2 linked regions of the Homo sapiens genome follow. The protein of the gene in region 1 interacts with the protein of each later gene in a biochemical or structural test. Each region holds a gene or a part of one and is shown on either strand. Other genes may lie near its edges.

What was found.
Region 2: the proteins of CIDEA (region 1) and NR1H2 form a complex in vitro, tested with the Homo sapiens proteins (one study listed by IntAct).

Annotation. Positions count from the first base shown.
Region 1 is NC_000018.10:12,274,539-12,278,224, forward strand, and holds the end of CIDEA (lipid transferase CIDEA), read left to right. Parts: intron 1-2,584; coding exon 2,585-2,732; 3' UTR 2,733-3,057; downstream 3,058-3,686. UniProt on the Homo sapiens protein: Lipid transferase that promotes unilocular lipid droplet formation by mediating lipid droplet fusion. Lipid droplet fusion promotes their enlargement, restricting lipolysis and favoring lipid storage.
Region 2 is NC_000019.10:50,379,220-50,381,753, forward strand, and holds part of NR1H2 (oxysterols receptor LXR-beta), read left to right. Parts: intron 1-560; coding exon 561-660; intron 661-2,534. UniProt on the Homo sapiens protein: Nuclear receptor that exhibits a ligand-dependent transcriptional activation activity. Binds preferentially to double-stranded oligonucleotide direct repeats having the consensus half-site sequence 5'-AGGTCA-3' and 4-nt spacing (DR-4).

The sequences.
Region 1 (3,686 bases):
CCACATTCATTTTAAGAACTAGAGCACTTAATTCTAGGTGATGATGACTAAAACCAGAGCCATGGAGGTCGTGGCCGGGTTTGTACAGAACGGTCACCTAGACCCTGGTGAATCACACGCCTTTGCATGTATCTCCTGTACTCCTGATAACTTCAGCCTTACCAGTAATGTGGCATGGGCGTGTGTCCTCTCCACATAATGCCAGGGCACCGTCATCCCAAAGACGAAGGCCAGGCTGGTTGCACAGCATCCCAGGAAACAGAACTTTTAGAAGACAGACTCCTGATCCAGCCATACCCCAGACCCATTCAAACAAATTCCATGTGATCAAAAGGAGCCTTCCTGGGTGTTCCTGCCCCATAACTGGGTGCCACCCCTGCCATTGAGCCTGGGACTGAGAGAAACACCAGCAGTCCCTGCTCTAAGGAATCAGCTGTGTGACCTTTCACAGACTCCTTAACTTCTCTGAGCCTTGCTTTTATCATCTTTAAATGAGAAGGTTGGTCAGGCATGGTGGCTCACACCTATAATCCCAGCACTTTGGGAGGCCAAGGTCAGCAGATCACTTGAGGCCAAGAGTTCGAGACCAGCCTAGCCAACATGGCGAAACTCTGTCTCTACTAAATATACAAAAATTAGCTGGGCGTGGTGGCGGATGCCTGTAATCCCAGCCACTCAGGAGGCTGAGGCAGGAGAATTGTTTAACCCCAGGAGGCGGAGGTTGCAGTGAGCTGAGATCCGCCACTGTGAGCCATAACCACACCACTGCACTCCAGACTGGGTGACAGAGCAAGACTGTGTCTCAAAAATAAATAAATAAACAAACAAAAAATAAATAAAATGAAAAGGTTGCTTCCAAGCTCTTTATGATTGCCAGGGCTCTAACTACACCTACTTCTACTCCAGTAAATTTACCGTTGATCCTTAAAGAACTAACCTCTGTGGAGGGAGTGGATGGGAGAGTGGCTGATTGCAGTAGAAAGGTCTTCAAGTCGAAAAGTTTTGCAGCTGCTGCCATTCCAGTGCCCCCTGCACGTCCCTGTGGGCAGGGCCGCCCGTTTCTCTTTGAGGGTGTTGTTTCCGTCCCCCGTGGCCTTGACAACTGCTCTGATTTGTGCTGAGCACAGCAAAGGGGAAATGCCCTCCTCTCAGAGGTCTCCTGGCCTCACCTGAGGTGGGCCAGGGTGTGTGGCTTCTCTGTGGCCTCAGTTTCCCATTCAGAGCCATCAGTGGCTGACTCTAAACTACAGTCACTGTCATAGTGTTGGAGTCTTGACTCCCAGGAGAGCTTCCTTTTTTTTGTCTTTTCCTTTTTGCCGGGTTAGGAGAAAATAGCTTTACACTTGGATTTTAAAAGTTAGGCAAGAGAGTTACAACAACTGAAAAAGGTAAGATGAAGAAAGCTAACCTCACCCAAAATTCCACCTCAGTGAAATCTTTTTTCTTTTTCTTTTCTTATTTTTTTTCTTTTTTGAGACGGAATCTCACTCTGCTGCCCAGGCTGGAGGGCAGGGGCACGATCTCAGCTCACTGCAACCTCCTCCTTTCAAGTTCAAGCCATTCCCGTGGCTCAGCCTCCCAAGTAGCTGAGATTACAGGCATGCACCACCACACCCAGCTAACTTTTGTATTTTTAATAGAGACGGGGTTTCACCATGTTGGCCAGGCTGGTCTCAATCTACTGGCCTCAGGTGATCCACCCACCTCGGTCTCCAAAAGTGCTGGGATTACAGGCATGAACCACATTCCAGGCCCTTTTTCTTTTTTTTTAAGAAAGAGGGTCTCACACTGTCCCCCAGGCTGGAGTGCAGTAGCACAATCATAGTTCACTGCAGCTTCCAACTCTTGGACTCAAGCGATCCTCCCACCTCAGCCTCTGAAAGTGCTGGGATTATAGGCATGAGCCACCACACCTGGCCACAAAGTCTTTCTTGAAAGACAAGTTCAGCCTTCTTGTTACTAATTTGTATTCTCTGATAAATCCGATGACACCACAAGCAGCCATGGAACTCACGACAGCCCCCACACTGGAGGCACCGCCTGCTAGGGACCCTGTTGTGGGTGCTGGGGGCAGTGGGCCCTCCTGATGAGACAGCTGCCCAGGCTTGGCTATCGCATCCCCATGGGCTCAGTCACTGCTGAATGTCCTGCTACTACCTTAGGAAGGGAAGGGATTTCAGTAGCAGGGCCCCTAGAACAGCCCAGCAGCCGAAGCCCAGGACACAGCACACCTGTGCGGGTGCGGCCATCTGCTCCACACAGAGCTTGCCAGCCACTCAACAAGCAGGCCGCACTTCAGGTGGCTCATGGGAGCCGTGCTTCTTGCGGTGGTCTTGGGCCAGCAGCAAGGGGGTCCTCAGGGAGCTCACAGAGACCTGCTCCTGGCCAGACCCACTGCCACGGCAGCTGCATCTGTGCCAGCCCTGGGACACGTGCACTCTGAGAGTCAGACAGCCATGCTCTAAATGTCAGCCTGGCCTCCTCCGAGTGCCTTTTGGTGGGGGGAGTGAAGTATTCCCATCCTGTCTGTTTCTCACTGGCCCAAAATCCCAAGCTAAAGCCTCCCCATCTGCCTCTGCCACAGGAGTCTGCTGCGGTTCCTGTCCTACTCCGCCCAGGTGACGGGACAGTTTCTCATCTATCTGGGCACATACATGCTCCGGGTGCTGGATGACAAGGAAGAGCGGCCATCCCTCCGGTCACAAGCCAAGGGCAGGTTCACGTGTGGATAGGGATGCAGGCTGTCGCCGGCTCTTGAGCCAAACACTGTGTTTCGTTTGGCTCAATGACGAATGTTGAAGATGCTTTTATGTTCTGAGCCACATGCACTTGGAGGCCGCTGGTCACGCTGCTCAGGAGTGGTGCCCAGAAAAGGAAAGGGCTTGGTGGTACATGAAGTGGGGGCAGTGGGCAGGGTGCCCTGGGGGGGAGGCATAGAGGGCCCTGGGGGTCATGGGAAGCGAGCACGCAGCAGGCGTGCCCAGGAGCGTGTGCATGTGTCAGAGCCATTTGGTCCATCATCTCCTGCAATAAACCCATCGCAAGAATGACCTTCAAGATGTGTGACACTTCCTGTGTCTCCTTTATCTCTCAGAAGAGCAAAAAGCAAACAAAACAAAACAAAACTATCAGAACAGCAAAAAAAAAAAAAAACTTTATATAGAAGCAAAACTCATCCAGGAATATTCTGCTAACAGATATAATCTCTCATAAGTCTTTATTAGTGCCACAAAAATAACAAGCTGCAAAATGTTATTGTATGTTTTTTTCAAACATGGATTTTTAACAGGCTCAAAGGGGCCCTCACACTGAAGGACTCAAATTGTGGAGGTCTTCAAGGACTTTTTTACTTTTTCACTTGTGAAAGTGAAAGGACTTTACTTTTTCAGCCTCTTTTTTCTTTTTCTTCTTTTTTTTTTTTTTTTTTTTTTGAGACAGGGTCTAGCTCTGTCACCCAAGCTGGAGTACAGCGGCCTGATCTCGGCTCACTGCTGCCTCGACCTCCCTGGGCTCAAGCCATCCTCCCACCTCAGCCTCCTGAGTAGCTGAGATTACAAGTGCACACCACCACCCCTAGTTTTTTTTATTTTTGTAGAGATGGGGTCTTGCTATGTTGCTCAGACTGGTCTCAAACTCCTAGACTCAAGCAATCCTCCTACCTGGGCCTCCCAAAGTTCTGAGATTAC
Region 2 (2,534 bases), on another chromosome or scaffold:
CTCCAGGACAGATGCTGGGAGCAGAGTTAAGGAAGACCAGTGCTTGCCGTTGTAGGATGACATTCCACGGCGAATAGAGTCTTCTATGAGCCAAGGAGAGAAAGGAAAAAGGGTCTGAGGCTGAGAAAATTGAGGATCAGGCTAGAGGCGCTATTGCAGAGAAAAGTTGCCAAAAAGGCTTTTCAGAGGAGTTAGCATTTGAATCAAAGTAGGGATAACATATAAGTATTGAGCACGTGCTGTATGCCAGGCTCTATTCCAAGTGTTGGCATATGGGGCAAAGAACAAAGCAGATCAAACCCCGTGCCCCAAACCTTGTGCTCACCTGGGGAAAGAGTATCCTAAGGAGATGGGGATGCAGCATGTGCGGAAGCCTGAAGTGGAGAAAGAGCTCGGGCTGTCTCACGTGATGGCTGCACGCTGGTGTGGCTGAGAGAACAGGGGGGAAGGGGACAAGGGATAATCCTGGTGAGATTAGACCCCCATTTGGGCCAGGAGGGGAGGGACTAGCAGCTGAAGGGTCACAGGGCTCAAGCTCCCCCTCCCGCTGCCGCCCTTAGATCATGCTGCTAGAGACAGCCAGGCGCTACAACCACGAGACAGAGTGTATCACCTTCTTGAAGGACTTCACCTACAGCAAGGACGACTTCCACCGTGCAGGTAGGGCCCAGGGGAGGCTTCGGGGAGGCTTGGCGCCCCTGCTGGCTGGAAGACCTGGGGCCAACTCATCCCTGTTGGAGTCTCTGTTTCTTTATCTCCAAAGTTGGGGTGAGGGTTGAGCCAAGGTGAGAGTGAGGTAAGAGTGCATGTGCCACGTGTGGTGGTGCACGCCAATAGTCCCAGCCACTCGAGGCTGAGGAGGGCAGATTGCTTGAGGCTATAGTGAGCCGTGATTGTGCGACGGCATTCCAGCCTGGTGACAGAGAAGACCGTGTCTCTATTTTTTAAAAAAAGCATGTATTGAGTGCCGACTCTGTACATTGGGTTGCAGTGGAAGTTGAGATGGGAGGAGCCCTGTTACCACATCAGGCATCTTGGTGGGCATTAGGAAAAGCATTCCCCGCCCCCGCCAAAACGTGGTCTCACCCAAGGGAGGCGGGCTGGAGCTCGGTCCATTGTGAAGCGGGCAGCCTTCTTTACTGTCTAGGGGAGCACTGCTTCCTGCCCTCTGAGAGCGCTAACCTGCGTGGGTGGGCTTCTGGAAGAAGGCCTGGGCAGTGAGAGGCACTGCCTAGGAAAAGGGTGGGAGGAGCATTGCTAGTGCTGCAGAGCATGCACCAGGGCCTCGCTCCCTCATTGTCCCACAATCTCTGGGGGACCTCTCTGTATTTCCCGACATCTGTCCAAACCCCACCCTCTCCCCTTCCTCTTACTCCGGCCCTTTCACCACCCGAGACGGTCCCAGTAACCCTTTTAGTATGAGCTTAGCAGGGCAGGGCTGCAGGGAAGCGTTTCTGGCAGAGGAGATTGGCGATTGCAGAGGCCCTGAGGTTGGGGAGAGCTGGTGGTTTGGAGGAACTACAGGGAGGCCCAGGCAGCTGGAGCACAAGGAGATGGGGTGGAGAGGAGGTCGGGAATCCCACCCTACCCCTTCCCAGCCGCTCCTCTGCCACCACCCTGGAACACTGCCAGGGTCCCCTTGAGGGGCCGCCTGCCTCCACCCCTGCCTGATGGGGCTGCTCACAGCACAGGCAGAAGGGTCCTGTCAGCACTTAAGGCTGCCCACTTCCCTCCTCCGCTCAGAACCCTCCGCGGCTCCCGTCTCACTGGGAGAAGAGCTAGAGTCCTCTCTGTGGCCCACAAAGCCCTTTAGGACCTGGCCTCGCTCACTCTCTGCCCTCAGCTCTCACCCTCTCCCCCTGTTCCAGCCACTCTGGCCTCTTACTGGCACCCATCCAGCATGCTGCAGCCAAGGGCCTGTGTACTTGGAGTTTCCTCTGCCCAGAACTAGGGGGACCAACTGGTCCTAGTTTGCCCAGGACCTTCCCAGTTTTAACACTGAAAGTCTCATGGCCTGGGTAGCCCCCGTCCCAAGTCATGGGAACAGCAGACGTTGGTCACCCTCACAATCCCTCATCTCCTTCGGATTGGTCACTGCTCCAGCGTCACCCAGAGCGCAGCCTTCCCTGCCCGCCTTGTGTAAAATAGAACCATGGCTCAGCAGGGCCCTTCACACTTCTCTGCACTGCCTGGTTCCATTGAACTCACAGCCCTCTGACAGGCTGGGCCTCTTCCTAATGTGTTTGTCTATGACCGGTCCCCTAGGCTCTCAAATGTAAGTGCTGGAGCCTGGCACGTGGCAGGTACTCAGTGACATTTGATGACTGAATGAACAAGTCAGTTTTGGGAATGAGTTTGGGCTTTACCTTGAGCAGTGGAAGCCAGCGCTGGGACCAGCACGATGTGACCTAGGTTTTAAAAGCTTCCCTTTGCCTTTGTGAAGGGGACAAGAATAGGGACTCGGGAAGCTGCAGCCACCGCCCAGGTGGGAAGGGAGGGTGGTGATAGGATAGTAGAAAATACTGAAGAAACAT